Homo sapiens: one gene and its partners. The protein of the gene in region 1 interacts with the protein of each later gene in a pairwise test. Each region holds a gene or a part of one and is shown in the gene's direction. Other genes may lie near its edges. The genes, in order: EIF2S3, GABPB1, SPATA12 and FASTKD1.

Region 1 (7,027 bases):
CTAAAAGTATCACTTAAACAAAACAGAAAAACAACTCATTGGATTGAAGGGATTCTTTTTCTAGGCTTCCTGAATTTCTTTTAAACAGCGCTGTTTCTGTATGTTAAATAGGAGAGAAACAGAGCCATTTCTAATTACTTCTCTAAAACACTTGAACTTGTTCCCCATCTGTTTTCTGAATATGATTGCATACCTGTTTTTTTATCAGGATACTGACACCTGTCTAGTGATGTTTATGGGGATTGGAGATGCCCTACAAGGAATGTTTAGATTGGGGCAGGGCTGGGACCAGGGAGGGACAAGTGAGGCCTTCACCTCAAGCCCAAAATGTAAGTGGGCCTGGCGGTGGCAGGTATGCCAGAAAACTCAGTAATTAGGATAAATATTTTAATGCAGTGTTTTTTTTAAATTAATGCAAAAAATGTGATAAATCAGAATTTTAAATAAGGGCAGACTCTATTACTAAATTTTTTTCCCCTTTTGCTTTGGCTCAGCATGGCATTGTATTTTGTTTATGATTGATTTTTTGCATTAATTTCGACTTTTTAAAAATACTGAATGCATATATTTTTTTTTCTTTCTTTTTTTTTTTTTTTTTTTTGAGACAGTCTCTGTTGCCCAGGTTGGAGTGCAGTGGTGCGATCTTGGCTCACTGCAGCTTCCACTTCTGGGTTCAAGCAATTCTCCTGCCTCAGCCTCCCGAGTAGCTGGGATTACAGGCGTGAGCCCCCATGCCCAGCTAGTTTTTATTTTTATTTATTTATTTATTTATTTTTGAGACGGAGTCTTTCTGTGTCGCCAGACTGGAGTGCAGTGGTAGAGACGGGGTTTTACCATGTTGGCCAGGATGGTCTCGATCTCTTGACCTTGTGATCCGTCCGCCTCGGCCTCCCAAAGTGCTGGGATTACAGGCGTGAGCCACTGTGCCCGGCCTAGTTTTTATATTTTTAGTAGAGGTGGGCTTTTGCCATGTTGTATAGGCTGGTCTCGAACTCCTGGCCTCAAGTGATCTGCCCGCCTCAGCCTCCCAAAGTGCTGGGATTACAGGCATGAGCCTCCATGCCCGGCCATTTTCCTTGATTACTGAGTTTTTTGGCAGTCTCTTAAATTTTGCACTTGTCTCACTGTAGTCCTGGCCTTTAATAGGGGATCAGCAAACTTTTTCCACAAAGGGCTAGGTAGTAAATATTTTCAGCTTTGCAAGCCATAGAGTTTCTGTTGATTCTGTTCTTCTATTACAGAAGCAAACGTAGACAATACGTGTGTAAATAGGTATGGTGGTGGGCCAGATTTGGCCTAAGGGCTGACCTCTGTTTTAGATCATGACAATGTGAGCATGCGATTAAAAAAACAATTGTGACTCTGAATGAATACCATAGTTTTGTTAAAAGTGCTGCCATCTCTGCTTCAAATGGGCAATTCTAGTTTTTCAAGGTGTTAGAGGTATTTTTGGAAAATTGTTTTTTTTTTTCTCTTTTTTTTTTGAGACGGAGTTTCACTCTTGTTGCCCAGGCTGGAATGCCATGGTGCTATCTTGGCGCATTGCAACCTCCACCTCCTGGGTTCAAGCGATTCTCCTGCCTCAGCCTCCCAAGTAGCTGGGATTACAGGCATGCACCAGCTACATGTGGCTAATTTTGTATTTTTATTAGAGACCGGGTTTCACCACGTTGGTCAGGCTGGTCTCAAACTCCTGACCTCAGGTGATCCACCTGCCTTGGCCTCCCAAAGTGCTGGGATTACAGGTGTGAGCCATTGCGCCCAGCCAGAAAATTGTTTTTTCAAATTCTCATTCTGTTAACGTGGTTTTTATAAGTCATTATAAGTTTTAGCTTTCAAATCAATGACATTCTCAGTATATACTCTCCACCATTATTCTATACCATATTCATTTTCATTGGATTTTGGAGTTTATCTTCCATTCTGCACATAACTAATTTAATTTGCTTTGTAATCTGCAGTGGTTTTCATCAGCTGGTGAACTTATTTCCAAGTTCTAGAAACGACAAGCCCTGTAACCATTTTATAGCAATAAGATTATTTCCTAAGTTGATTTAACTTTAAAAAATCTAAAACTAGCATGTGTAAGTAGTGATTTATGTTAAGGCTGATTGTTATTTCTCAATCATTAGACATGTTTCCTTTGTTGACTGTCCTGGCCACGATATTTTGATGGCTACTATGCTGAACGGTGCAGCAGTGATGGATGCAGCTCTTCTGTTGATAGGTAAATACCTCACAATTGGTTTGGACAAATCAATGTGGAACAAATCCAAGATGAAATATTTAAAGGGGAACTAAGGCCTTTAAGGATCATATCTATTACCTAAGGGTGACATGAATGGGAACTAACATGTCATCCAGGATGACTTTCCTACCTATCAGCTATCACAAAATACTCAAAAAGATAGACTTGGGGCTGATAGCTTGCGAGAATTCTTGTGGTAGCATTTGAGAAAAAGAAAAAAAGTCAATAGTTCATTTTTCTCATTTAAATCACATGAGGTGATTTATTTAGTTTTAAATGTATGTGTAAAACTATTTGTGTTATGGTTTGTGTGTGTGTATGTCTGAACTGTCTACTGTGGAAGTATTTAAGATACAAATATTCATAATACGTGCTGAAGTGTAGGAATAAGTGGAGTTTTGAAGGGTAGCGTATGCTTTGTTTCTTATGTTAGCTGTTGAGAGATTTCATTACTAGGGGGTAAAATTTTTTAAAAGCTGCTGGTGCGGTGGCTCACGCCTGTAATCCTAGCACTTTGGGAGGCTGAGGTCGGCGGATCACCTGAGGTCAGGAGTTTGAGACCAGCCTGACCAACATGGAGAAACCCCCTCTCTACTAAAAATACAAAATTAGCCGGGTGTGGTGGCGCATGCTTGTAATCCCATCTACTCAGGAGAATCTCTTGAACCCGGGAGGCAGAGGTTGCAGTGAGCCAAGATTGCGCCATTGCACTCCAGTCTGGGTAACAAGAGTAAAACTACATCTCAAAAAAAAAAAAAAAAAAAAAAAGCGACTGGGCATGGTGGCTCATGGCTGTAATCCCAGCACTTTGGGAGGCCGAGGCAGGCGGATCACTTGAGGTCAGGAGTTCAAGACCAGCCTGGCCAACAGGGCGAAACCCTGTCTCTGCTAAAACTACAAAAAATTAGCCAGGCTTGGTGGTGCGTGCCTGTAATCCCAGCTACTTGGGAGGCTGAGGCACGAGAATCGCTTGAACCCAGGAGACAGAGGTTGCAGTGAGCAGAGATCGAGCCATTGCACTCCAGCCTGGGCGACAGAAGGAGACTCAGTCTTAAAAAAAAAAAAAAAAAAAGCTGGGTGCGGTGGCTCACACCTGTAATCCCTGCACTTTGGGAGGCCAAGGCAGGTGGATCACTTGAGGTGTCAGGAGTTTGAGACCAGTCTGGCCAACATGGTGAAACCCTGCCTCTATTAAAAATACGAAAATTAGCCGGGTGTGGTGGGGCACACCTGTAATCACAGCTACTCAGGAGGCTGAGGCAGGAGAATCGCTTGAACTTGGGAGGCGGAGGTTGCAGTGAGCCGAGGTGACGCCACTGCACTCCAGCCTGGGTGACAGAGACAGAGTGAGACTCAGTCTCAAAAAAAAAATTTTTTTTTTAAAGCATGCCATGTTGGTATAGTCAGGACACTTGAATATCACGACTTGAGGAGGTTGATCATTAGAGTGCTCAACAAAACATGCCTATTTCTTTATAATACACTGTTGGTTATCTTCACAATAGCATTCTTCCCTCCCTCAGTTGAAGAGTAGCCTCTGATATTAGTAAAAATTCATAGACAGTATTAAGTGCTTTTCCCTTTTAATTACTCTCTACTTCTCAGGAGCTTGCCTGGGCCAGAACATTTCTAAAACTGGAGAGAGTTAGAGGGCTATACCTCATACCTGAGCAAAAGCTGAGTGCAGACCCTGAGAAAAGCCAAACTTGCTGATTTTAAGCTTCTTGCTTAGGACCAGGATTGGGAGCCACACAATTGGGAGGTTCCAGTGAATGCAGGCAACAGAGGATGAAGCAGGGCCAAAAGGTGGATACCTGGCAATAATATCTTCCTTATTAGGGTTAGAACATTCAGAAGTCTCCTTTATTAGATGCCAACTTTTTTTGGGGCGGGGAGTGGGTGGCAAAAGAGACTCATAAAATGTACCATTTTATGTATTTACAGGGTAGAATTTAGTGGCATTAAGCACATTGACAATTTTCTACAACATAGTGGTTGTCATTTCACCACTATCTAGTTCCAGAACTTTTGTATCAGAACTTTTGTATCACCGCAAAAGGAAACCCCATGCCCATGAAGCGTCAGTCCACATGTTTTCCTCCCCCAGCCCCTTGCAACCCATAATTTGCTTTGTCTCTTTATGGATTTGCCCGCCTATTCTGGATATTTCCAGCTATTCTTATATGCATCTTTTTTATTCTTCATCAACTAGCTGGTAATGAATCTTGCCCTCAGCCTCAGACATCGGAACACCTGGCTGCTATAGAGATCATGAAACTGAAGCATATTTTGATTCTACAAAATAAAATTGATTTGGTAAAAGAAAGTCAGGCTAAAGAACAATACGAGCAGATCCTTGCATTTGTCCAAGGTAAGAAGCCATAATATGAAATAAATCTATGAATCACTTTGAGAGGCATTTACTCTGGATACCAGATGTTAAATTAACTTTTAATATATTATCTAAAACAAGGTAAACTTACAAGTCTTAAGCCTTATCGCCCTACCTTTTGCTTGTTAGTAACCTGATATAACTAATGAAACCTGTGATTCTGAATTTAATATACTAAAGTATATTTTTGCTGGCAGCAAGTTAGAACTGAGGTTGTTTTCTGGAAACTTTATCAATCAGATTAAAAAAAATCTCAGTGACAGTAAAATGAATAAAATAATTTTAAAAAACCTTGTCTTACAGTATTTGTTACTGAACAGCTTTCAGATTTGGAAGTGACAGTGATTATTTAATCTCTAGAGTGTCGGCCGGGCATGGTGGCTCACACCTGTAATCCCAGCACTTTGGGAGGCTGAGGCAGGTGGATCATCTGAGGTCGGAAGTTCGAGACCAGCCTGACCAACACGGAGAAACCCCATCTCTACTAAAAATACAAAATTAGCAGGGTGTGGTGGCACATGCCTGTAATCCCAGCTACTTGGGAGGCTGAGGCAGGAGAATCGCTTGAACTTGGGGGGCGGAGGTTGCGGTGAGCCGAGATCACGCCATTGCACTCCAGCCTGGGCAACAAGAGCGAAACTCCATCTCAAATAAATAAATAATAAATCTCTAGAGTGTCCCTTCTCTAATAGCATAATGTTTTTCATTTCAGAGGAGATGTGATTTATTGTTGACATTTTCTCTCTCAGTCTTGTTTTTCTTTTTAGAAAGGTTAATTTCTTATGAACTCAGTTCTGTCATCACGAGAAGTAATAAGTGAATTTGATTAAAGTCTAATTGTGTTTGGTCTATTTCTTTGACTAGCTTGTTTGACGTATAATCAATACGTAGCAAATATATATGGTTGGGCGTGGTAGCTCACACTTGTAATACCAAGACTTTAGGAGGCTGAGGCGGGTGGGTCACTTGAGTCCAGGGGTTCAAGACCAACCTGGGCCACGTGGTAAAACTCTGTCAATACAAAAAATTAGCTGGGCTTGGTGGCACACACCTGTGTTCCCAGCTATTATGTAGGAGGCTGAAGTGGGAGGATCGCTTGGGCCTGGGAAGTGGAGGTTGCAACAAGCCGTGATTATGCCACTGCAGTCTAGCCTGGGTGACAAAGCGAGACCCTATCTCCAAAAAAAAAAAGTATATATGCCAGCAGTCTTTGATTAGCAGAGTCTGTAATTTTATCTTGACATTTATTGGGAGATTAATTACATGTTGTTAGAAATTTTTTCAACTAGTAGAGTGCTCTTTCACAGGAATGTTAGTATTTTCTTTATTTAAATAAGTTTATCATTGTACTAATATTAAGTATGTCTACTAATATAATGTAACAAATTTTCTCTTACAGGGATTTGTATTCATTTTCAGGAGTAAAAACAAACAATATTGCCATCTTTCTAAACAGAATTATCCACTTTCCACTTGTTGCTGACATTTATATGGGGTTTAGGCATCTATTTTATTATAGTAATCTTAATTGTTTTATGTAACAGATACATAGAATAAATTTTATAAAACTGTATAATTTTGATCTTTCTAAATTTTGTCATATAGGTACAGTAGCAGAGGGAGCTCCCATTATTCCAATTTCAGCTCAGCTGAAATACAATATTGAAGTTGTTTGTGAGTACATAGTAAAGAAAATTCCAGTACCCCCAAGAGACTTTACTTCAGAGCCCCGGCTTATTGGTAAGTGATAGGATTTGCCTTTAACTCTTAATCTGATCTTTTCCACATTGGTGATTCCTCTTCAAGGATGTTTATTAATATTTCCTCTTTCTGCAGAGGTGATAATTCATACAATTTTTTTGAAATCAATTCTGAGATTGTATTGGCAGTGCTAGATTGTATTACTGAATGAGGGACAGAGTCCTGAACACAGTAAGAACTGTTAACCTAAGCCGGGCGCAGTGGCTCACGCCTATAATCCCAATACTTTGGGGGGCCGAGGTGGGTGGATCACCTGAGTTCAGGAGTTTGAGACCAGCCTGATCAGCATGGTGAAACCCTGTCTCTACTAAACATATAAAAAATTAACTGGGCATGGTGGCGGGTGCCTGTAATCCCAGCTACTCGGGAGGCTGAGGCAGGAGAATGGCGCGAACCCGGGAAGCGGAGGTTGCAATGAGCTGAGATCGCGCCATTGTACTCCAGCCTGGGCAACAAGAGTGAAACTGCGTCTCAAAAAAACCCAAAAACAACTGCTAACCTTTCTGTGCTTAATATATGGTACATGATCAAGATGGAGTAATACAGTATTCTCCATGGAATCATAATGTTTTAGGGTGTTAGAACTTCCTGACTAAAACATTTACAGATGATTTTGTTGTTCAATT
Region 2 (7,027 bases), on another chromosome or scaffold:
TGCACGTCATGAGGAATTCAGAAATTCAGAAATTACATGAAGTTTTGCATCATGAATTTATTTTTGAGGGTGCACGAGGCAGTTACCCAGTCTCTGTTTGCAAGTAGCCTGAGTTCAGATGAACTCACTGATGGCCTCCATCTCTTCTGACTTTGCAAACGTTGAAAAACAAACCCACACAAAATCTTGAAGTTGAGAGCAACTTAGTTTCCTTAGTGTCATCCCTCTGCTCCCCTCTCCTCCCCAACAACTAGTATGGTTTCCAGCTAGTAATCACAATGTTTCTATAGCTCTGATGTGCCTACATTGGGATAGCTACAATTAGTATTATAGTTTTCTGAAGATGTTTGTTCCATCATGCTTTCTAGAAGGTAAATCTAGCACTAGATGAGATCAGTATTAGGGCCTGTGTTTTTTCTCAGTGTTGACATCACAGTGCTCTATACAAAGAAGATGCTTTGGTGCAATCAGCTGTCAGTTCAGTTGGTGGGCTAGTGCACCTTTCTGTCTCCCTCCCTCCCTCCCTCCCTCCCTCCCTCTTTCCTCTCTCCTTCTCCCTCTGTCCCTCTCCCTCTCTCTCCTTCCCTCCCTGTTTTCCCCTTTGCACCTCTTCTTTCTTTGACAGGGTCTTGCTTTCTCTGTTACCCAGGCTTAGTGCAGTGGTGCGATTATACTTCACTGCAAGCTCCACCTTTCAGGCTCGAGCGATCCTGCCTCTGCCTCAGCCTCCTGAGTAGTTGGGACTACAGGTACCTGCCAACATGTCTGGCTAATTTTTTAATTTTTTGTAGAGACGAGATCTCACTGTGTTGCCCAGGCTGGTCTCAAACTTCTGGACTCAAGTGATCCTCCCACCTTGGCCTCCCAAGTGTTGGGATTATAGGCGTCAGCCAACACACCCATCTGTGAATAATTCTGAAGTTGGTAGAACAGCTTATTGACAGAGCAAGGTGTTAGCCCCACTTTACTGTGTACTAGTTATATTATATTTGGGGTATTGTGTTGGCTTTTTGGGTAGCATACTATCATAAGTGAGACCTTGTATTCATTCTCAGACTTTATCAGAATCATCTGGAGAGCTAATAAAAAGCCACACAGAGGCCCAAACTTAAGTAGGGTAGGAACGGACCTTAATTTTTCTCATTTCCAAGGTGGTAGACACCTAAGTGTCAAAATCACTTATCTGTAGAGCATAAACGAGGACCTTGATCATGAGAGAAATGGAAATGAGAAAAAGTTGAAAAAATGGGATGTTTGACCTAAAGAAGAGGAGCTTCTTTTAAGAAGTAACAGCCACTTTTAAGGATTTGGAGTTCTGTCATGCAGAAGGATCAGATTTGACTTGACCAGAAGGAACTAGGGTCAGTGGGTGGAAGTTTAAAAGAAGCAGATTTCAATTCTCTTTCAAGATAAATTTCCTCAAAATTGTGAAAATAGAATGAGTTGTTTTGGGTGGTAGGCTGTTCCTGTTCACTGACAAATTGGGGATTCTAGAGTAGAGGAATCGTACTGAAGGAGAATTTGAGCTAGGTGTCTTCAAGTTACCTATAAACTTTGAGGTTTTATTAAATATGCCGAGGTTTACAGGTGGAAGAACAAAAAGCTAATTGAGTGAAACAAACTGGTTAACTTGATAATAGTTTTTGCCTTCCTGGATAAAGAGAAATGAGTATTAAGTGAGAAGGCTATTTAATGAAGGGCTTTAAACCACACTGTAATTTGGTAGATTCAGCAGCTTTAAAAATTGGCATACCTTCTGACATGGAAATTCCCTTTAAAGAATTTTTTTTTTGATGTAGTAAAGATGTGTGTGAATATTTAATTGTGAGCATACTAGATGCAGTATTGTTGATTATAAAAGCTGTGTATTAATGCCTTTAAGCCCCACGGTAATCATATGAAGTGGGTAGTACTATTTCTGCTTTTCAGAAGAAAAAACAGGCATAGAGAAATGAGGTTGCTTGCTCAAGGTACCTGAGTTAGTTAAGTGTTAGGGCCAGGACTTGAATCCAACCAGTGTGACTCTAGAGCCAGTACTATTGATCATTATATGGTAAAATTGTAAACAACCTAAATGTTTCACAGTGATTGTTAGGGTCCATCCCTACAGTGGGGTACTGCCTTCTCAGCCATGAAAATGATGATAGAATAATATAAAGACATGAAAGGATGTCTTGGTATATGTAAGTGAGAAAAAATAAATTTAAAAACATGATTCCATTTTGGTAAAAAAACCCAAAAATATATTATGTCTGGAAGGATATGTGCCAAATTGTTAAATGGTTATTTCTGAGTGTAGTTTTACAGGTGATTGTTTTCTTTTTGCTTATCCAAATTTTCTAACTTCTACAATGAATATAAATTATCTATCATGTTGTAATTAAGATATTAAGATGTAACTTTTCAATAAAAAATTAAATGTGTTAGCATAAGCTGAGAAATTTGGGTTTTATACTCTGCATTTTAAGCAAGTTTGTAGAAATTGTACATGAGAATTTGTAAATGCATGTAGTGTTTTGTAATTTTTTGTTTGATTCCTTATTCTAGAAGTAATATCAATTGAGTAGAGAAACATATCACTCCTACCACCCTACCATAATCAATTATTTTGTTGTGTGTTGTTACTCTTATGTGTAATATTTTAAATATTCATCCCAGTGTCATCCCAGTTAGTCATACTCTAGCTGTGTGATTTTAGGCAGTTTACTTAATCTCTCCGTGGCTCAGTTTCCTTCTTTGTAAAATGTGGATTATTATAATACTTAGCTCATGATGATTGGAAAGATTAAATGTTATTTCATATAAAGTGAACAGAACAGTACCTGAAACATAACAGTTAATAGCTCAATAAATGTTAGCAATTATAGGATCACAGTCCACCATTCAAACTCTTAGGGTCTAATAGGTTATGGAATTAGGAATTTTTTTTTTATATGGGCAAGGTAGTAATGTGTAGCCTTCCAATAGAGTCCAGTGCAATATCCCCCTTCAAAAGTGTTACTGTTTCTGCAACAAAATGTATGAATGTTCGCACTAAATAGGATAAAGACTGTAAATAGCTTCATATCAGTTTGGGTAAGGTTTACCACAAGATGAGTTATTTTGGGTTTCAGAAGTTTTTTGGATTTTTGGAATTGAAGATAAGGAACCTATAAAATATTAATTTTGAGTCCTATTTTATAATATTAAAACATCTTTTCATGGTATTTTATAGTTTTATAGTGCATGGTAAATTAAAGTCAATTAAAATGAAATAATGGAAAATGTCCACCTCCATCTCCTTTGATTTAAAAAATACTCAGCATACTGATACTATGATTTAAAAAAAATTTTTTTTTTGAGATGGAGTCTCACTCTGTCGCCAAGCTGGAATGCAGTGGCACGATCTTAGCTCAGTGCAATCTGCGCCTCCTGGGTTCAAGCGATTCTTCTGCCTCAGCCTCCCGAGTAGCTGGGACTACAGGTGCGCGCCACGACGCCCAGCTAATTTTTGCATTTTTAGTAGAAACGTGGTTTCACCATGTTGGTCAGGATGGTCTTGATCTCTTGACCTTGTGATCTGCCTGCCTCGGCCTCCCAAAGTGCAGCAATTACAGGTGTGAGCCACTGTGCCCAGCCAAAAAGTTTCAAAGTTTAAAAAAAAAAAAATGGCCGGGCTCAGTGTCTCATGCCTGTAATCCCAGCACTTTGGGAGGCCGAGGCGGGCGGATCACTTGAGGTCAAGAATTCGAGACCAGCCTGGCCAACATGGTGAAACGCCGTCCCTACTAAAAATACAAAAATTAGCCAGACGTGGTGTGTGCTTGTGTCTCGGCTACTCGGGAGGCCGAGGTGGGAGTATTCCTTTAGTCTGGGAGGCGGAGGTTGTAGTGAGCGGAGATTGTGCCACTGTACTGCAGCCTGGGTGACAGAGCAAGATTCTGTCTCCAAAAAAAATTTAAAAAACTACTCCTGTTGGTCCTGACTGTGATTCTATTTTAAAGAATATCTTAAACCCACTAATGCTGTGATTATATTACATAATGTAGAATCTTTTTCTGAAAGAGGCTTGAGCATTCCTATAACCCAATTAGCTTGTTTATGTCTCATTACACTTGAGGGATAAGATACTTTTACTATGGTGGTTTACTATAGTAGTGATTCTTTTTTTTTTTTTCCAGATGGAGTTTCACTCTGTCACCCAGGCTGGAGTGCAGTGGTGTGATCTAGGCTCACTGTAACCTCTGCCTCCCGGGTTCAAGTGATTCTCCCAAGTAGCTGCAGTTACAGGTGCCCGCCACCATGCCCAGCTAATTTTTGTATTTTTAGTAGAGACGGGGTTTAGCCATGTTGGCTAGGCTGGTCTCCAACTTCTGACTTCAAGTGATCTGCCCACCTTGGCCTCCCAAAGTGCTGAGATTACAGGTATAAGCCACTGCGCCCAGCCTATAGTAGTGATTCTTTAAAGGAGGTGGGTAGATGACACTGTGATACCTGTCTTTAATGCACCCATTCTGTGCATGTAGAGACTGAGGTGGTTGTAAAATTACAGTACTGAACTTTGGAATTAGGTCAATTCTTCTCATTATGATAACGGTTTTGGATGTATAGCCCCTTCTGACTCCTGGAATCCTTTATTTCCACAGCACTTCCCATGTATCCAAACAGAGGAAAAAATAATTAGTAGTATAGTGCTTGCTTCAGCAGCACATATACTAAAATTGGAACGATGCAGAGAAGATTTTCATGGTCCCTGCACAAGGATGACACATAAATTTATGATGTGTTCCATATTTATTATTATTTTTAATAATAAAAAATAAAAAAAATTTGTATGGTGTGTAAGTGAATGATCTAAAAAATTTCCTTTGTGCCCTAAATGACTTGTGTGAACTCTGTGATCTTTGCCAATGTGATTATTCTTCCTGTGTTCCTTTACTTGTTCCATTCATAGTGACCCTCAGTTTCTTGCCCTAAGTGCTATGGTCTAAAAGCTTGTGTCTCCCCATAATTCATGTTGAAATCTTAACCTCCAAGATGATGGCATTAGGAGATGGGGCCTTTGGGAGGTGATTAGCTCAGGTGGGTAGAGCCCTCAGGAGTGGGATTAGTGCTCTTAAAAAAGAGACTCCAGACCGGGTGCAGTGGGTCATGCTTGTAATCCCAGCACTTTGGGAGGCTGAGGTGGGTGGATCAGGAGGTCAGGAGTACAAGACCAGTTTGGCCAAGATGGTGAAACCCCATCTCTACTAAAAATACAAAAATTAGCCGGGCACAGTGGCAGGTGCCTGTAATCCCAGCTACTCAGGAGGTGGAGGCAGGAGAATCGCTTGAACCTGGGGGGGGCGGAGGTTGCAGTGAGCCGAGATGGCGCCACTGCACTCCAGCCTGGGCGACAGAGTGAGACTCTGTCTCAAAAAAAAAAAAAAAGACTCCAGACAGCTTGTTAGCTCTTTCTTCCACATGAGGTTACAGCAAAAAGACAGATGTCTAGAAGCTGGCCCTTACCAGATACTGAATCTGCCAGTGCCTTATTTTGGACTTCTCAGCCTCCTGGGCTGGGTGAGGTGGTTCACTACCAGCCTTGGCACCATAGTGAGACTCCCATCTCTACAAAAAAAAAAAAAAAAAAACTTTCTGTTGTTTGTAAGCTACCCAGTTTATGGTATTTTGTTACAGCAACCCAAACAGTCTGAGACGTTTAGCTTAACTCCTGTATGCACTAGATACAGTCTGCACTTTGACATCAATCACTTATTTTATATTTTACTGGACTCCTGTTGTCAGATTTTTCCACCATCGATTTCTTCTGTTTTCCCTCACAGGTCACAGCATATTTGTGGAGGAAGGTGAGTAATTATGAAGATTTCTTGGCCACTATAAATTTACGCTGAACAATTCCAAATAGGCCCCTCCTACTTCTTGGCAATCATCTTATTAATTGCATTTTTCTGTTGTCTCATATTCCTTCTTCCTCTTTAACTCTTAATAGATGCCATTTACTTCTATATAAGTGAAAAAGGAAAACAGGGTACAAGCTTGCACATTTTTTTTTCATTGTAACCATGACAAATCACTGTTCTTTCATCTTATTTTGTAAATTGAACGGAAGAAGAATCCTGCTGCCACAGTTAACTTTACCTCTCTGGTCACTTTGATTGTTATTTGCAATGTTTTTTCTTCCCTACCTTAAAATATGTACAGACTTCTCACCGGGCGTGGTGGCTCATGCCTGTAAACCCAGCACTTTGGGAGGCCAGGGCGGGTGGATCACGAGGTCAGGAGATCGAGACGATCCTGGCTAACACAGTGAAACCCCGTCTCTACTAAAAATAAAAAAAATTAGCTGGGCGTGGTGGCGAGCGCCTGTAGTTCCAGCTACTCGGGAGGCTGAGGCAGGAGAATGGCGTGTACCCGGGAGGCGGAGCTTGCAGTGAGCCGAGATCGCACCACTGCACTCCAGACTAGGCGACAGAGCGAGACTCCATCTAAAAAAAAAACAAAAAAAAATGTACAGACATCTGTACTTTGGGAGGAAAAAAAATCAATTTTGATGAACTGCTGCTACTGTTCTTTCTAGCTATCTGCTGCATTTCTCTTCATTTCAAAAATTTTAAGAATTGAATTACAATTGCTGCCGTGAGTTTTTACTTTTTTTTCGAAGACAGGGTCTCACTGTGTTGCCCAGGCTGGAGTACAATTGCAGCTCACTGCAGCCTTGACCTCCCCAGGCTCAGGTGATCCTCCTACCTCAGTTTCCCGAGTAGCTGGGACTACACGCATGTGTCACCATGCCTGGCTAATTTTTGTATTTTCCTGGTAGAGACAAGGTCTCACTGTGTTGGCCAGGCTAGTCAACTCCTGAGTTCTTTTACTACTACTTTCCTAACTTACGCAGTTTTGGAATAGCATAATTCAGATTGTCGCTTCAGAGGACATCTTTTTTGTCAATAATATTGGCTTCATCCTGACTCTTTTCAGCTAGTATATATGTGTTACTATTTCCACTGAGGCTTTTTAATGTTCTCTCCTTGCCGTTTGTGTTAGT
Region 3 (7,361 bases), on another chromosome or scaffold:
TTGCAGTGAGCCAAGATTGTGCCACTGCACTCCAGCCTGGGCGACAGAGCAAGACTCCATCAAAAAAAAAAAAAAAAAAAGAAGCAGAGCAAGTATGCAGGGAAAAGTGATCATGGGGAGCCTCCCTGCAATGTTTGAGCCAAACTAGATATGGGAGGGAGCTGGCCCTAAGAGAAGGGGCAAAAGTGTTCTGGACAGGAGGACCAGCAGACTCAGAGGCTGAGCAAGCAAAGGGATTGGGACATAGCTGGAACATCCATGAGACCAGGAGGCATGACGAGGAGTGGAAAGGGCATGTTAGTTAAGGCAAGAAGAGATGTGGATTTTTTTCTAAGCAGAATCGGTTATCGTTTCTTTTTCTTTCTTTTTAGTTTTTTGTAGAGACAGGATGTAGCTATGTTGCCTCATGTTGGGCATGGTCTCAAACTCCCGGTCTCTGTTATCTTGAACATATACCACAAGGTCCTCTATGAGGTTGATGCACCACAAAAGACTATGGGATTGAAGGGCATTCAGTCAACTGGTCCACCCTGAAATCCTTCTATCCCACCATGGTTCAAGCAGGCGACAAAACACAAAGGCTCCTCTTGGCCTTGACCATGCAGGTCTATACACACACACACACCCCACACACCCCTGCCCCCTGCCCCCTTCCATCTTTTCCTTTAGGTCTAAACACAAGCAGGCTGTCACTCCACCTGCCCCCTTGGTAGTACCTCCAGCTGTAGTCCCGTTATGATCCTGGGTAAAATGGGGTCTACACTGCAGGTTTCTGCATTTTTTAATTTTCATTATTATTATTTTTTGAGATGGAGTTTCACTTTGTTGCTCAGGCTGGGGTGCAGCAGCATGATATCGGCTCACTGCAACCTCTGCCTCCTGAGTTCAAGTGATTCTCCTGCCTCAGCCTCCCAAGTAGCTGGGATTACAGGTGCGTGCCACCACACTTGGCTAATTTTTGTATTTTTAGTAGAGAGCGGTTTTGCCATGTTGGCCAGGCTGGTCTCGAACTCCTGACCTCAAGTGATCCGACTGCCTTGGCCTCCCAAAATGCTGGGATTAGCTGTGAGCCACCGCGCCCGTCCAGGTTTCTGCATTTCTGTTCATGATTTCTCAGCACTTATCCCAACTATAATTTTACTTGCATTCATGTGACTATTTGATTAGTATCTGTTTCCTGAGTGAGTCTTGTCTGTTGACTCTGGTAGGGTAGAGTCTGAGCCGGTCTTAGCCACCAAGACTTCCTCAGCACCTAGCACAGGGCCTGGCCCAGGGTAAGTCACACCCACACCCACACCCCCACACAAGCTTTTTTAAAATGTAAAAGTTTAAATACAAACGGAGAAAGAATATAATGTACCCTCTGTGCCACACATCATACAATTTGAGTGGTCAACTCATTCCTAATATTATTTCTTCTACACTCAACCCAGTGAAGCGAACTCCAGCCATCGTATCACTTGATACATACTTGAGTGATATAGAGTAAGTGAATGAATGACTGCCTCCTACTATAACAGACAAACTGGGGGGCTTAATTCTTGCTCTCACTGATTTTACTGTCCATACTAGACAGACAAGGGAGAGTTGAGGAGGGGCCACTTAAATGAGTCAGTCAGTTTTGCCACCAAGTTAGCAACTCTGATAAAATTTCAGATGAAACTAAAACTATTGTCCAAAGTGAATTTCCTTTTCCTCATATTGACTGGGCTTTAACCCTTCAGTCGTGTCCTTGCCATGGCCACATTCACCAAAAGCCGACTGTAAAGGAAGGGAGGGTTACCTATTTCCCACAATCTCTTTCAATTAAAAGTCCTGAAAGAACAAGTTTCTTTCCATAAAATAAGCCATGTGGCCTTTTACACAGAAAAATAAGGAATGCCTGGAAATTAGTATTACCACTTGCTCCCTCAAGGGCCAATCTACATTACACCTATTTTCTCTATTTTCACATTTATGAGAACTTGTTCCAAATCAGTCTGGTCTTTTTGAAATGCCATTACAGTTTTACATACATTGGACAAAACTGTCATAGACTGTGATGCTCTCGGCGTCCAGCAAAATGAGTGATACTTGTACCCAATGGGTTTGTTTCATGTCACCTGCCCTTCAAGGTCCCAAAAGTGTGCATAAAAATAACAACTTGAAATGCTCACATGCCAGGAAACAACAGGTGCTGGAGAGGATGTGGAGAAATAGGAAAACTTTTACACTGTTGGTGGGACTGTAAACTAGTTCAACCATTGTGGAAGTCGGTGTAGCGATTCCTCAGGGATCTAGAACTAGAAATACCATTTGACCCAGCCATCCCACTACTGGGTATATACCCAAAGGATTATAAATCATGCTGCTATAAAGACACATGCACACGTATGTTTATTGCGGCACTATTCACAATAGCAAAGACTTGGAACCAACCCAATGTCCAACAATGATAGACTGGATTAAGAAAATGTGGCACATATACACCATGGAATACTATGCAGCCATAAAAAATGATGAGTTCATGTCCTTTGTAGGGACATGGATGAAGCTGGAAACTATCATTCTCAGCAAACTATCGCAAGGACAAGAAACCAAACACCGCATGTTCTCACTCATAGGTGGGAATTGAACAATGAGAACACATGGACGTAAGAAGGGGAACATCACACACCAGGGACTGTTGTGGGGTGGGGGGAGGGGGGAGGGATAGCATTAGGAGATATACCTAATGTAAATGATGAGTTAATGGGTGCAGCACGCCAACATGGCACATGTATAGATATGTAACAAACCTGCACGTTGTGCACATGTACCCTAAAACTTAAAGTATAATAATAATAAAAAAAAGAAATGCTGACATGCAATCATACTTAACTATGCCTTTTTTTACTATAAAATATATTCATTACTTGTATTTTCTAAATTTTTTCATAAGCACAGGGAAAAAATTTTAAGCCTTGTCTTTAAGCCTAGAGCAAGGGTGTCCAATTTTTTGGCTTCTCTGGGACACACTGGAAGAAGAATTGTCTTGGGCCACACATAAAATACACTAACACTAACAATAGCTGATGAACTAAAAAAAAAACTCATAATGTTTTTTAAAAGTTTATGAATTTGTATTGGGCCACATGTTAGACAAGCTTGGCCTAAAGATAAGTCACATTTTGGAGTCTGTTCTTCCCCGTGTGTGTATGAGTTGGGGGTGGGGGGAGGGAGGGTGGTGAGCAGCATGATTACAAGTCCAGGCTCCTTAATCAGTGATAGGTTCAAATCTGGCTCTGCTATCTGCCACCCACATAGCCTCAGGCAAGTTGCTTCCCTCCATAAGCACATTTCCTCTTCTGCAAAGTAGGACTGAAATGACTGCCTGATGGGGTGACAATGAGGCTTTAAAAAGACGAAGAGGGGCTGGGTATGGTGGCTCACGCCTGTAATCACAGCACTTTGGGAGGCCAAGTTGGGCAGATCACCTAAGGTCCAGAGTTCAAGACCAGCCTGACAAACATGGAGAAACCCCATCTCTACTAAAAATACAAAAGTAGCCAGGCATGGTGGCACATGCCTGTAATCCCAGCTACTCGGGAGGCTGAGGCAGGAGAATCGCTTGAACCTGGGAAGCAGAGGTTGCAGTCAGCGGAGATCACGCCATTGCACTCCAGCCTGGGCAACAAGAGTGAAACTCTATCTCAAAAATAAAAATAAAAATAAAAATAAATAGATGAAGTGAGGGACAAGGCATGGTGGCTCACACCTGTAATCCCAGCACTTTGGGAGGCCAAGGCGGGAGGATCACTTGAGCCTAGGAGTTCAAGAGCTGACTGGACAACATAGCGAGACCCCATCTCTATAAAAAATTTTAAAATTAGCTGGGTGTGTGACATGTACCTACAGTCCCTGTGGGAGGATCTCTTGAGCCTGGGAGGTCAAGGCTGCAGGGAGCCGTGATTGTGCCACGGCACTCCAGCCTGGGCGACAGAGCTGAGATTCTGTCTCAAAAAAAAAAAAAAAAGGAACTTAGCCCAGGGCCCGTATGCAGCAAGCACTTAAATGGTATAGCTGCTGCTACTCGGGTTATCAAAAAGGAGCTGCAAAAAAGTCTAGGTTCTGCAGGAGAGCCCTTCCAAGAACCTGCCCAGGAAGTGGGTACACCTGTCCCCACCCCCACAGTAGGAGTCAGAATCAGGGACTGGAAGGGATGGGGTTCCTGGAGGAAGCTCACAGCAGCAGCAGCCTCTGAGTCACAACTCAGCCCCTCCCTGGCATATCCCTTTGTTTGCTGGGAGTTGAGCTGTGACTCACAAAGGCTCTGGTCCCGGGCTGGGCCCATGTGACCCAGGGTCCTGACTGCCCTGCCCACAGTCACTGAGAAAATTCTTTGTGCAGGCTCACCTTCCCCTCATCTCCCCCACTCTTCCTGATCCTGCAGCGTCAGATCCCAGCCTGCAGTATCAGACCTCAAAAGGAGCCTCTGGTGTCTTGTGAGTAGTTTACCTGCCGCCCCACCCCCACCCCGAAACACACACACACACATGGGCACACACCACCACCACTTCTTTTTTGGCCTGTGCCTGTTTTTTCACTGTGCTACATTTTGACATAAGTTCAATCTATAAAGAAAAAGTCCAGGAGAGTCCAACTCCTCTTATACTCTTTTTTATTGTGGTAAAATATAATATAAAACATACCACTTTAACCATTTTTAAGTGTACAGTTCAGTGACATCTAGCACATTCACCATATTGTACAACTCTTACCATTATCCATTTCCAGAACTTTGTTGTCATTCTAAACAGAAACTGTGTACCCATTCAGCGGTAACTCCTCCTGCACCTGCCCCTCTCCCAGCCCCTACTGTATTAATACTTCTCTCTCTAAACTTGCTATTCCAGGTACCCCCTGTAAGTGTCCTTTTGTGACTGACTTTTCTCATGTAGCATAATACTTTCATGGATCAGCATGTTGTAGCATGTGTCAAAAATTCCTTTATTTATTATTATTTTTTTTTTTGCAATGGGGTCTGGCCCTGTCATCCAGGCAGGAGTACAGTGGCACGATCATAACTCACTGCAGCCTCAAACTCCTGGGCTCAAGAGATCCTCCTATCTTGGCCTCCCAAAGTGCCAGCATTACAGGTGTGAGCCATCTCACTCAACCAGAAATTCCTTCCTTTTTAAGGCTAAATAATATTCCATTGTATGTACATACCACATTTTGTTTATCCATTCATCTGTCAATAGACATTTGTATTATTTTTACCTTTTGGCTATTGTGAATAACGCTGCTGGGAACATGGGAATGCAAGTATCTGTTTGGATCTCTGCTTTCATTTCTTTGGGTATATACCCAGATTTGGAATTGCTGGACTATATGATACCTCTATGTTTAACTCCTGTTACACTTTTAGGATTCTGGCAGCCACCACAGCTAACTCTCAGTGAGCAGTCTCTCATCCTGTGTTACTCACCACTCTAAGAATTTTTATTAACTCATTTAGTCCTGAGGTGTGGTATAATTATTTTCATCCCCATTTTACAGACAAAGAACCTGAGGTGAGAGAGGTCCTCCTTCTCAGATGGCAGCATCAGTATCTGAGCCCGCATAGGTTCAGATTTAAATTGTTTCTCCGGTTGTGACAAAAACAAGGTGCTGCTCTGCCTACAAGCATTTTCTGCCCTGAATAATGCCTTTGGGAGGGTTTCCACATCTTTCCTTGCTCTGGACTAAGGATCAAGTAAAAAAAGAGAGTGGGGCAGGGATGCTCCACTGGATTGGATCTGTCTAGACTCACTGCTAGCAGTGAGAAATCCAACTCCATCTAGATGGGTGAGAAGGGGGATTTGTAGGAAGATCCCTGGAGCAGCTCAGTCATGTGACTAGATCCAAAGGCAATGTGCCCAACCCTCCCCTCGCAGCTCCACACTCTGGGCCTGTCCTCACTGCTCTAGCGCTGGGTGAGTGCCTTCAAGCACCTTCTCTGCCACTTCTGAGTGGGTTAGGATGACCCTGAGGAAGCCCACAGCCTGGCAAGGGTGGCTTGTGTCTAGCTCCAGACCGGCTACCACAGCCGAGGGGAGGGGAACCATGATAGGCCCAGCCAGGACCACAGCCCCCACTCGGGCTCAGGCTAGGCTCAGGAGCACGGCGGCGGGGGCGGGGGGTGCTCAGGAGCATGGGGAAGCCTTTCAGAGAAGAGGGAAGGAAGCAGGGCAAGTGCCCAGCACAGATGCTGCATAATCTACAATAGCAAAAGATTGGAAGCTGCCCAGTAGTACTGAACAAAACAAGGTTAAATAAAGCTGCTCTAGCCACTCAGCAAAACACTATGTAGCTGTTTAACAAGCAGGAATATCTGGTGGGAATGACAGGACTCGCTGTTTCTCTGTCTACACACATGCACACACACACACACACAACAAACATGCACACACACATACATACACATATGTAATAATTCACAGGTAAGAAAAATATAGGCAAGAATTATATCATAATAGAAGAATCAAATGGCTTTTAATCTGTTTACCAAACTTTTCTTTACGGGTTCAACAAATTATTGTCTGTACCAGGCAAGGCACTGGGGACATGACAGGGAACACAATAGAAGAAAAATCCCTGCCCTCATGGAATTTACATTCTAGTGGGGGAGGCAGATGACAAGATAAATAAGCAAAATACACCTTATATTGGATAACGATAGTGTAAGGAGAAAAAGCAATGAAGGCAAAGGGGAAGTTGGGATGCAGTGGTAACGGTTTAGACACGATGACCAGGGAAGGCTGAAGGAAATGAGGGACCAAGCTCTGCAGATATTGGGAGAGGTGCATTTTGGGCAGCGGGAATAGCAGGTGCAAAGGCCCTGAGGTGCCCACGCAGGGAACAGCATGGAGGTGATGTGGCTAGAGTGCGGTTATGAGGGGGAAGGGCAAACTAAGAGAGGAGTCAGAGAGGAAATGCAGCCAGATCACATGGGGCCTTGCAGCCAGCCACCCTAAAGGCTTTGGCTTTGTTGCAGTGAAATGAGAGCTATTTGAGGGCTTTGAGCAGAGAAGTAGCCAACCCTTCAGAAGGTTCCCTCTGACTCTGAGTTGAGAACAAGCTGAAAGGAGGTAAAGGCAGAGGCTTGGAGGCCGCAGTCATTCAGGTGAGAGGGGAGAATGACCTGGAGGGTGGTAGGAGCGGGAGGGGAGCAGTGGCCACTCTACAAGTAGAGTCTTTTGACAAGTGAAGAGAAGAGAGATACAAAAGTCAAAGATGACGCCCCAGGCTTTGGGCCTGAGCAACCAGGAGGTTGGGGTGCTCCTTAACAGAGATGTGGGAAGAGGATCAGGAGAGTCGGGCATCCTAGAAGCCAGGTGAGACAAGGCTTCGAGGAAGAG
Region 4 (7,027 bases), on another chromosome or scaffold:
TCTATTGTATGAGTATGTGCAGTTTATCCATTGTACTCTTGATGGACATTCGGGTTTTTTGCAGGGTTTTGCTATTACATATGTGTTGCTGTGAATTTTCTTATGCTTGTTTTTTAGTGAATTCAAAGTCATAAAATCTATAACAGTTCCTTTTTCCTCTCTTTTGTCTTGCCATTTTCTTGTTGAAGAAATTGGATTATTTCTCCTATTAAAAAAATTCATAGCACTGTTGTAGTAGCAGCCATTATATTTGTTAATATGCAACCTTGAGTCAAAATTGTTCTGTCATCTAAAAAAATTAAGTAAATCATTCAAATAATTTTTAGTGATTTTCCCCCTTTCAAAACCTTTCTACAGTATCTGACTTTTTAACTGTTGCCATGTTACTTTTATAATAATAACATTTTAGAAAAAAAATTTTATGTAATTTACTATTTTGATTGCTTTTAATTTTATAACTATATATTATGTGTTTTAAGTGAAAGTAAATACTAATGTTCTCCTTTGTATATTTCCTTTAATAGGTTTGATATTAAACTGCTCTCAGAATTTTCCTCTTGCCTAGCAGATCAGCATTTGTATTTTAGTCCATTAATGGGAAAAATAGCTGATATTGTTCATAGGAACTTGGAAACCACACAGGACTTAAGGTAAATTTATTTAGGGAATCTTGTGTTGTGGTGGAAAGATCCTGGGCTTTGGATGTGGATGCAGTCAGATTTGCTACTCTTAGTTTATGTGACTTAAGGTTACTTAAGCTCTTGGAAGTTCGTTATCCTCATCTGCAAAAGAGGGATAGTAATAGCTACTTTGCAATATTGCTGTGGGGATTAGACATAAGGTACATAAAGTGTAATACAATATTGTTGAGGTCTGTGGAGGATCTGAGTTTTTACCTATTTGCAAGCTAAGTTTGCCTGCCACATTTTCCTACGTGTGCCGTAGGAAGGCCTGAGACTCCGAGGTCAGAGAGAGGACTTTGTTTTTTATAGCAATAGCAGTAGCAGAGTACCAGAATTTTCTTGTGTTGATTCCCTGAGCTCTCGTTCCCATAATGGGTTGTGATCCAGGAGAGGAGCTCTGAGCTTAGGAAACCTGAATCTTTTATAATAAAGCATGCCTACTCTGCTCCAACAGGAGACATTATCTCTATTCTCCTAGGCTGTTTGCTATGCAAACATCCTTGAAAAGATAGTTCTGAACAAAGGCAGTCAGAAACCCACTGAAAATGGCCTCTGAATAAGTATCTAGAACATAGAAGTTTCTCAGTAATGGATAGTAGGTATTATTATTATATCATGAAGTAAACCCAAGAAGTATTTAAATTAAGTATGAATTCATTGGCCAGGCATGGTGGATCACACCTGTAATCCCAGCACTTTGGGAGGCCGAAGTGGGTGGATCACTTGATGTCAGGAGTTCGAGACCAGCCTGGCCAACATGGCAAAAATCCCATCTCTACAAAAAATACAAAATTAGCTGGGCATGGTGGCGGGCGCCTGTAATCCCAGCTACTCGGGAGGCTGAGGCACAGGAATTACTTGAACCTGGGAGGTGGAGGTTGCAGTGACCTGAGATTGTGCCACTGCACTCCAGCCTGGGCAACAGAGCAAGACTCTGTCTCAAAACAACAATAACAAAAAACGAAAAAAAAACAGTAACAAAACTTGAAACAACAACAACAAAATCCAAAAAAACCAAAAAATAAATTAATAAATAATTAATTTACAATAAATTAATAAATAATTAATTTACAATAAATTAATAAATAATTATTTTACAATAAATTAATAAATAATTATTTTACAATAAATTAATAAATAATTAATTTACAATAAATTAATAAATAATTAATTTACAATAAATTAATGAATAATTAATTTACAATAAATTAATGAATAATTAATTTACAATAAATTAATAATTAATTTATAATAAATTAACAAATAATTGATTTACAATAAATAAATAATTTATAATAAATAATTTACAATAAATTAATAAATAATTATTTTACAATAAATTAATAAATAATTTACAATAAATTAATAAATAATTTACAATAAATTAATAAATAATTTACAATAAATTAATAAATAATTTACAATAAATTAATAAATAATTTATAATGAATAATTAATTTATAATAGATTAATAATTAATTTATAATAGATTAATAATTTATAATGGATTAATTTATAATTAATTTATAAACAAATTCACAAATTTTACATACAATTATGTCTTTTTTATTCTTTCCATCTGGGAATACTTTCTTTTCAGTTTCATAAAGGAGAGTTAATAGTTACATTTGCTGAATGTCAAGGAACTATTAATTTGAAACTAACATTTAAGGAGTTTCTCTGGTTTTCATACCAGTGGTTTGAGGGTTTGTTTTGTTTTTAACATAAGATTACTTACTGTCAATGCTAACCTTCATAATCCAGTACTATGATTGTCTTTGGCGTTTCAGATACAGCTTTTTCTCTCATATTTACAAAGTGATTAGCACTTTGGTAAAATTAAATTATAGTAGTTTCCTGCTCTTCTTGCCCCACTCCACCCTACTTCCCTGCCTTTTTTTTTTTCTTTTGAGATGGAGTCTCCCTCTGTTTCCCTGACTGGAGTGCAATGATGCAACCTCTGCCTCCTGGGTTCAAGCGATTTTCCTGCCTCAGCCTCCTGAGTAGCTGGGATTACAGGTGCTCGCCACCACATCCAGCTAATTTTTATATTTTTAGTGGAGATGGGGTTTCACCATGTTGCCAGGCTGGTCTCAAACTCCTGACCACAAGTGATCTGCCCACCTCGGCCTCCCAAAGTTCTGGGATTACAGGCATGAGCCACCATGCCCAGCCCCTTGCCTTTTTTTTAAAAAAAATACACTTATGTGGCTGGGTGCAGTGGCTCATGCCTGTAATCCCAGCACTTTGGGAGGCTGAGGTGGGAGGATTGCTTAAGCCCAGGAGTTTGAGACCAGCCCTGGCAACATAGCAAGACTCTGTTTCTACAAAAAAAAAAAAAAAAAAAAAAAAGAATTGATCATTCTTAATTGATGTAAAAATCTTTGCATCTTTTTTCTTTTTCAGTTCCTTGTCTGTCTTGATGGTCAACATATCTTCTTTAATATCACGACATTTTCAACAACAACTGGTGAACAAAACAGAACTTCTTTTTGACACCATAGATTCTTCTGAGGTCAACGTTGCAAAAAGCATAGCAAAGTTTCTTCGAAATGTTAGATATCGTTATCAACCACTATTAGAAAGATGTAATAACGTATTTTTAAGTAATGTGGACCACCTTGATTTGGATTCCATCAGTAAAATACTTAGTGTATACAAATTTCTACAATTTAATAGTTTTGAATTTATTATAATGGCTAAAAAGAAGCTAACTGAAATGATTCCTCTGTGTAATCATCCTGCTAGCTTTGTAAAATTGTTTGTAGCATTGGGACCCATTGCAGGACCTGAAGAAAAGAAACAGTAAGTTCAGTTTAAAATGCATTACTTTTTTTGTTGTGAATACGTGGAGCCTTCAAGCTTAGGTCTCCTTGCAGCTCTGGAAGGTACAAATATCACCCTATTAGGTTGTGGAAGGGAAAATAATCTCTTATGCTCTGCTCCTTGATTCTTTTTCTGATTATTCTAATTTACATCTCAAACTCTTAGTCTGTTGCTGTGTTCTGAAAGGTAAACCTCTGATACTGGGCCAACATGAAAAAAAATGAGGGGAAACGCCATGTGTTTTTATTCTCCCTTTTGTGCTACATGACTGGATTTACACATATAAGACTCCCCCACCCAGTGTAAGTCTGTGGAATATTTAGAATTATAGTAGTCATAGCAGAGGGCCATTTTATGCTTTGCTGTCTTCATCACAATAATCATCAAAGCATTTATTATGCACTGGGCATATGTTCCCATGTCAGGTTTGAGCAAATTTTGTGTGGCGCCTCTCATTTAGGAATTTCCAGTTTTGCTAGATACTGATGTAGGTAGTAATATTTGAAATATAATGATGAGCAAATATTAAATTAACATACAAATACGGTTAATAGATAAGAGTTTCTCTTCCTAGGCCATGTGACTGGATTTATACTAGACATAAACTTCCCCCACCCAGCATAATTGTATGAAATATTTAGAATTACAAGCTGGGCACGGCGTTGCACGCCTTTAATCCCATCACTTTGGGAGGCCGAGGCAGGTGGATCCCTGGATCCCAGGAATTTGAGACCAGCCTAGGCAAGATGATGAAACCTTGTCTGTACAAAAAAATACAAAATTAGCCAGATGTGGTGGTGCCCACCTAGATTCCCAGCTACTCATGAGGATCACCTGAGCCCAAGGAGGTTGAGCCTGCAGTGAACTGACATTGCGCCATTGAATTCCAGCCTGGGCACAGAATGAAACCTTGTCTCAAAAGAAAAAATAAAAGAAAAAAATAAGAATTTTATATAATAGTCCTAACACATAAGTATGATTAGTAGATTCACTTAAGCAGGGGTTCCAAGACTTGCACAATAGGGGAATCTGTATCATTACTCTGTTAGGGAAAACTTTACGGAGAAAGTTTTATTTTTTAAGAGTACTTTGTGGCTGGGTGCGGTGGATCATGCCTGTAATCCCAGCACTTTGGGAGGCCAAGGCAGGTGGATCACCTGAGGTCGGGAGTTCAAGACCACCCAGACCAACATGGAGGAACCCCGTCTCTACTAAAAATACAAGATAAGTCGGGCATGATGGCAGCGCCTGTAGTCCCAGCTACTCGGGAGGCTGAGGCAGGAGAATCGCTTGAACCCGGGAGGTGCAGGTTGCAGTAAGCCAAGATCGCGCCATTACACTCCAGCCTGGGCAACAAGAGCGAAACTCTGACTCAAAAAAAAAAAAAAAGTACTTTGAATTATATGAAAAAATTTAAGAGCACATCTTAAGACTATATCAAGATGGAAACAAGGTGATTATTAAAAAAAACTATTGGGGCCCAGCACGGTGGTTCACACCTGTAATCTCAGCACTTTGGGAGGCCAATGCTGGCAGATCACTTGAAGTCGGGAGTTTGAGACCAGCCTGGCCAACATGGTGAAACCCCGACTCTACTAAAAATACAAAAAAAAAGGGCCGGGTGTGGTGGCTCATGCCTGTTATCCCAGCACCTTGGGAGGCTGAGGCGGTTGGATCACTTGAGGTCAGGAGTTCGAGACCAGCCTGGCCAACATGGTGAAACCCCGTTTCTAGTAAAAATATAAAAAATTAGCCGGGCGTGGTGGTGGGCACCTGTAATCTCAGCTACTTGGGAGGCTGAGGCAGGAGAATCGCTTGAACCTGGGAGACTGAGGTTGCAGTGAGCCAGGATTGCGCCATTGCACTCCAGCCTGGGCAACAGGAGCGAAACTCTGTCTCAAAAAACAAACAAAAAAATACAAAAAATAATTAGCCGGGAGTGATGGCAGGTGCAATGGTGGGCATCTCTAATCCCAGCTACTCTGGAGGCTGAGGCAGGAGAATCGCTTGAACCTGGGAGGCGGAGGTTGCAGTGAGCTATCATGCTCCTGCACTCCAGCCTGGGCAACAGAGTGAGACTCCATCTCAAAACAGACGAAGAAACACACACACGAACAAACTTTATTGGAACCGTTTTTTGTCACCAAGTACTGTTAAAATCTCAGTGCTAAAGCAATAAAACAGTTGGGTTTAACTGAGTCTGTCTTCAAGGAATTTATATTGCAATTGAGAGGATAGATATAATTGAAATATGTAAATACTGTAACAACATAGTTTATGAAGAAACAATAAAATTAGTGATATGGATAGTGCTGTGAGCAGACAGAAGTGAGAGAAAAATATAGACTGAAGTGGTTGGGAAAAGTTTGTGGAGAAACTGGGTTTGAAACCTTTGAAAAGGTTGGTGGAAAGGATGGCATGGAGTTATCCATGTGAATAGACAATTAGTTTATCCTATCAGATGTCACGTTTCGAGCTTGCTTTCTAAATGATTCTAAAAAATACACGTATCATGGTACTTAACATTACTGCACTACTTTGGATAGTTCAAATGACAACTAATCATAGTCAAAATGGACCAGCTTTGTTAATTTTCAGTTTATACTGTTATATCAAGTGCTTAGTATATGAGATTTCTGATAATATGCAGGTTTATTGACTCCTAGATGTTCCTATTCAGTTTTAAAACATTTGGGAAATTGTCAGAATATCAACTGTTCATTTCTTAGCTCTCTAGTATTGAATAATTTCACTGAATCATAGTATTTTATAACCATTATAACCTTGTATTATTTGAAAATCTTAAAATATCTTTTACCTGTATTTTTCAAACAGTTTAAGATTGGATTATAATGAGGCCTGAATTTCATTGAAGAAGACAATATATTTTTCTTTATTCAGTAATATTTTATATTCGAGTAATGTGGGGAGAACACTAGAATTATATATTGGATTCAGTTTTTGTTTATATTTTTTTTCCTATTTGTTACCCAAGAACTGTTATTTAAAAAAAATTGCAAGCTAATTTTCAGTCTTTCAACCAAAAACTTTTTTTTTTTTGCTTCTAGACTTAAATCAACTATGTTATTGATGTCAGAGGACCTAACTGGCGAGCAAGCCCTGGCAGTGTTGGGAGCAATGGGAGATATGGAAAGCAGAAACTCATGTCTGATTAAAAGGTATCTTTTCTGAAATTTACGACGTTAAGTTTGTTGTCATTCACAAGCACCTATTTTTTTCTAAGGAAAAATGGTTTTCTTCTTTAATCTACCAGTTGTTTTGAAGAAATAAGGAATTAATGCTTAAGCCACTGTTTATGTTCTACTTTGTTTTTCTTTTCTTTTTTTTTTTGTTTTTTTGAGACAGAGTCTCACTCTGTTGCCCAGGCTGGAGTGCAGTGGCACTATCTCTGCTTACTGCAACCTCTGCTTCCCTGGTTCAAGCAATTCTCTTGCCTCAGCCTCCTGAGTAGCTGGGACTACAGGCGCCCACCACCATGCCCCAGCTAATTTTGTTTG

What was found.
Region 2: the proteins of EIF2S3 (region 1) and GABPB1 interact in binary tests that used the Homo sapiens proteins (3 or more experiments, as listed by UniProt).
Region 3: the proteins of EIF2S3 (region 1) and SPATA12 interact in binary tests that used the Homo sapiens proteins (3 or more experiments, as listed by UniProt).
Region 4: the proteins of EIF2S3 (region 1) and FASTKD1 interact in binary tests that used the Homo sapiens proteins (3 or more experiments, as listed by UniProt).

Annotation. Positions count from the first base shown.
Region 1 is NC_000023.11:24,057,956-24,064,982, forward strand, and holds part of EIF2S3 (eukaryotic translation initiation factor 2 subunit 3), read left to right. Parts: intron 1-2,132; coding exon 2,133-2,227; intron 2,228-4,460; coding exon 4,461-4,619; intron 4,620-6,245; coding exon 6,246-6,380; intron 6,381-7,027. UniProt on the Homo sapiens protein: Member of the eIF2 complex that functions in the early steps of protein synthesis by forming a ternary complex with GTP and initiator tRNA.
Region 2 is NC_000015.10:50,345,173-50,352,199, reverse strand, and holds part of GABPB1 (GA-binding protein subunit beta-1 isoform beta 2), read left to right. Parts: exon of another isoform or gene 1-3,264; intron 3,265-5,804; exon of another isoform or gene 5,805-5,828; intron 5,829-7,027.
Region 3 is NC_000003.12:57,056,324-57,063,684, forward strand, and holds the start of SPATA12 (spermatogenesis-associated protein 12), read left to right. Parts: upstream 1-4,340; 5' UTR 4,341-4,463; intron 4,464-7,361.
Region 4 is NC_000002.12:169,556,848-169,563,874, reverse strand, and holds part of FASTKD1 (FAST kinase domain-containing protein 1, mitochondrial), read left to right. Parts: intron 1-524; coding exon 525-650; intron 651-3,089; coding exon 3,090-3,488; intron 3,489-3,494; exon of another isoform or gene 3,495-4,951; coding exon of another isoform or gene 4,952-4,962; intron 4,963-6,577; coding exon 6,578-6,688; intron 6,689-7,027. UniProt on the Homo sapiens protein: Involved in the down-regulation of mitochondrial MT-ND3 mRNA levels which leads to decreased respiratory complex I abundance and activity.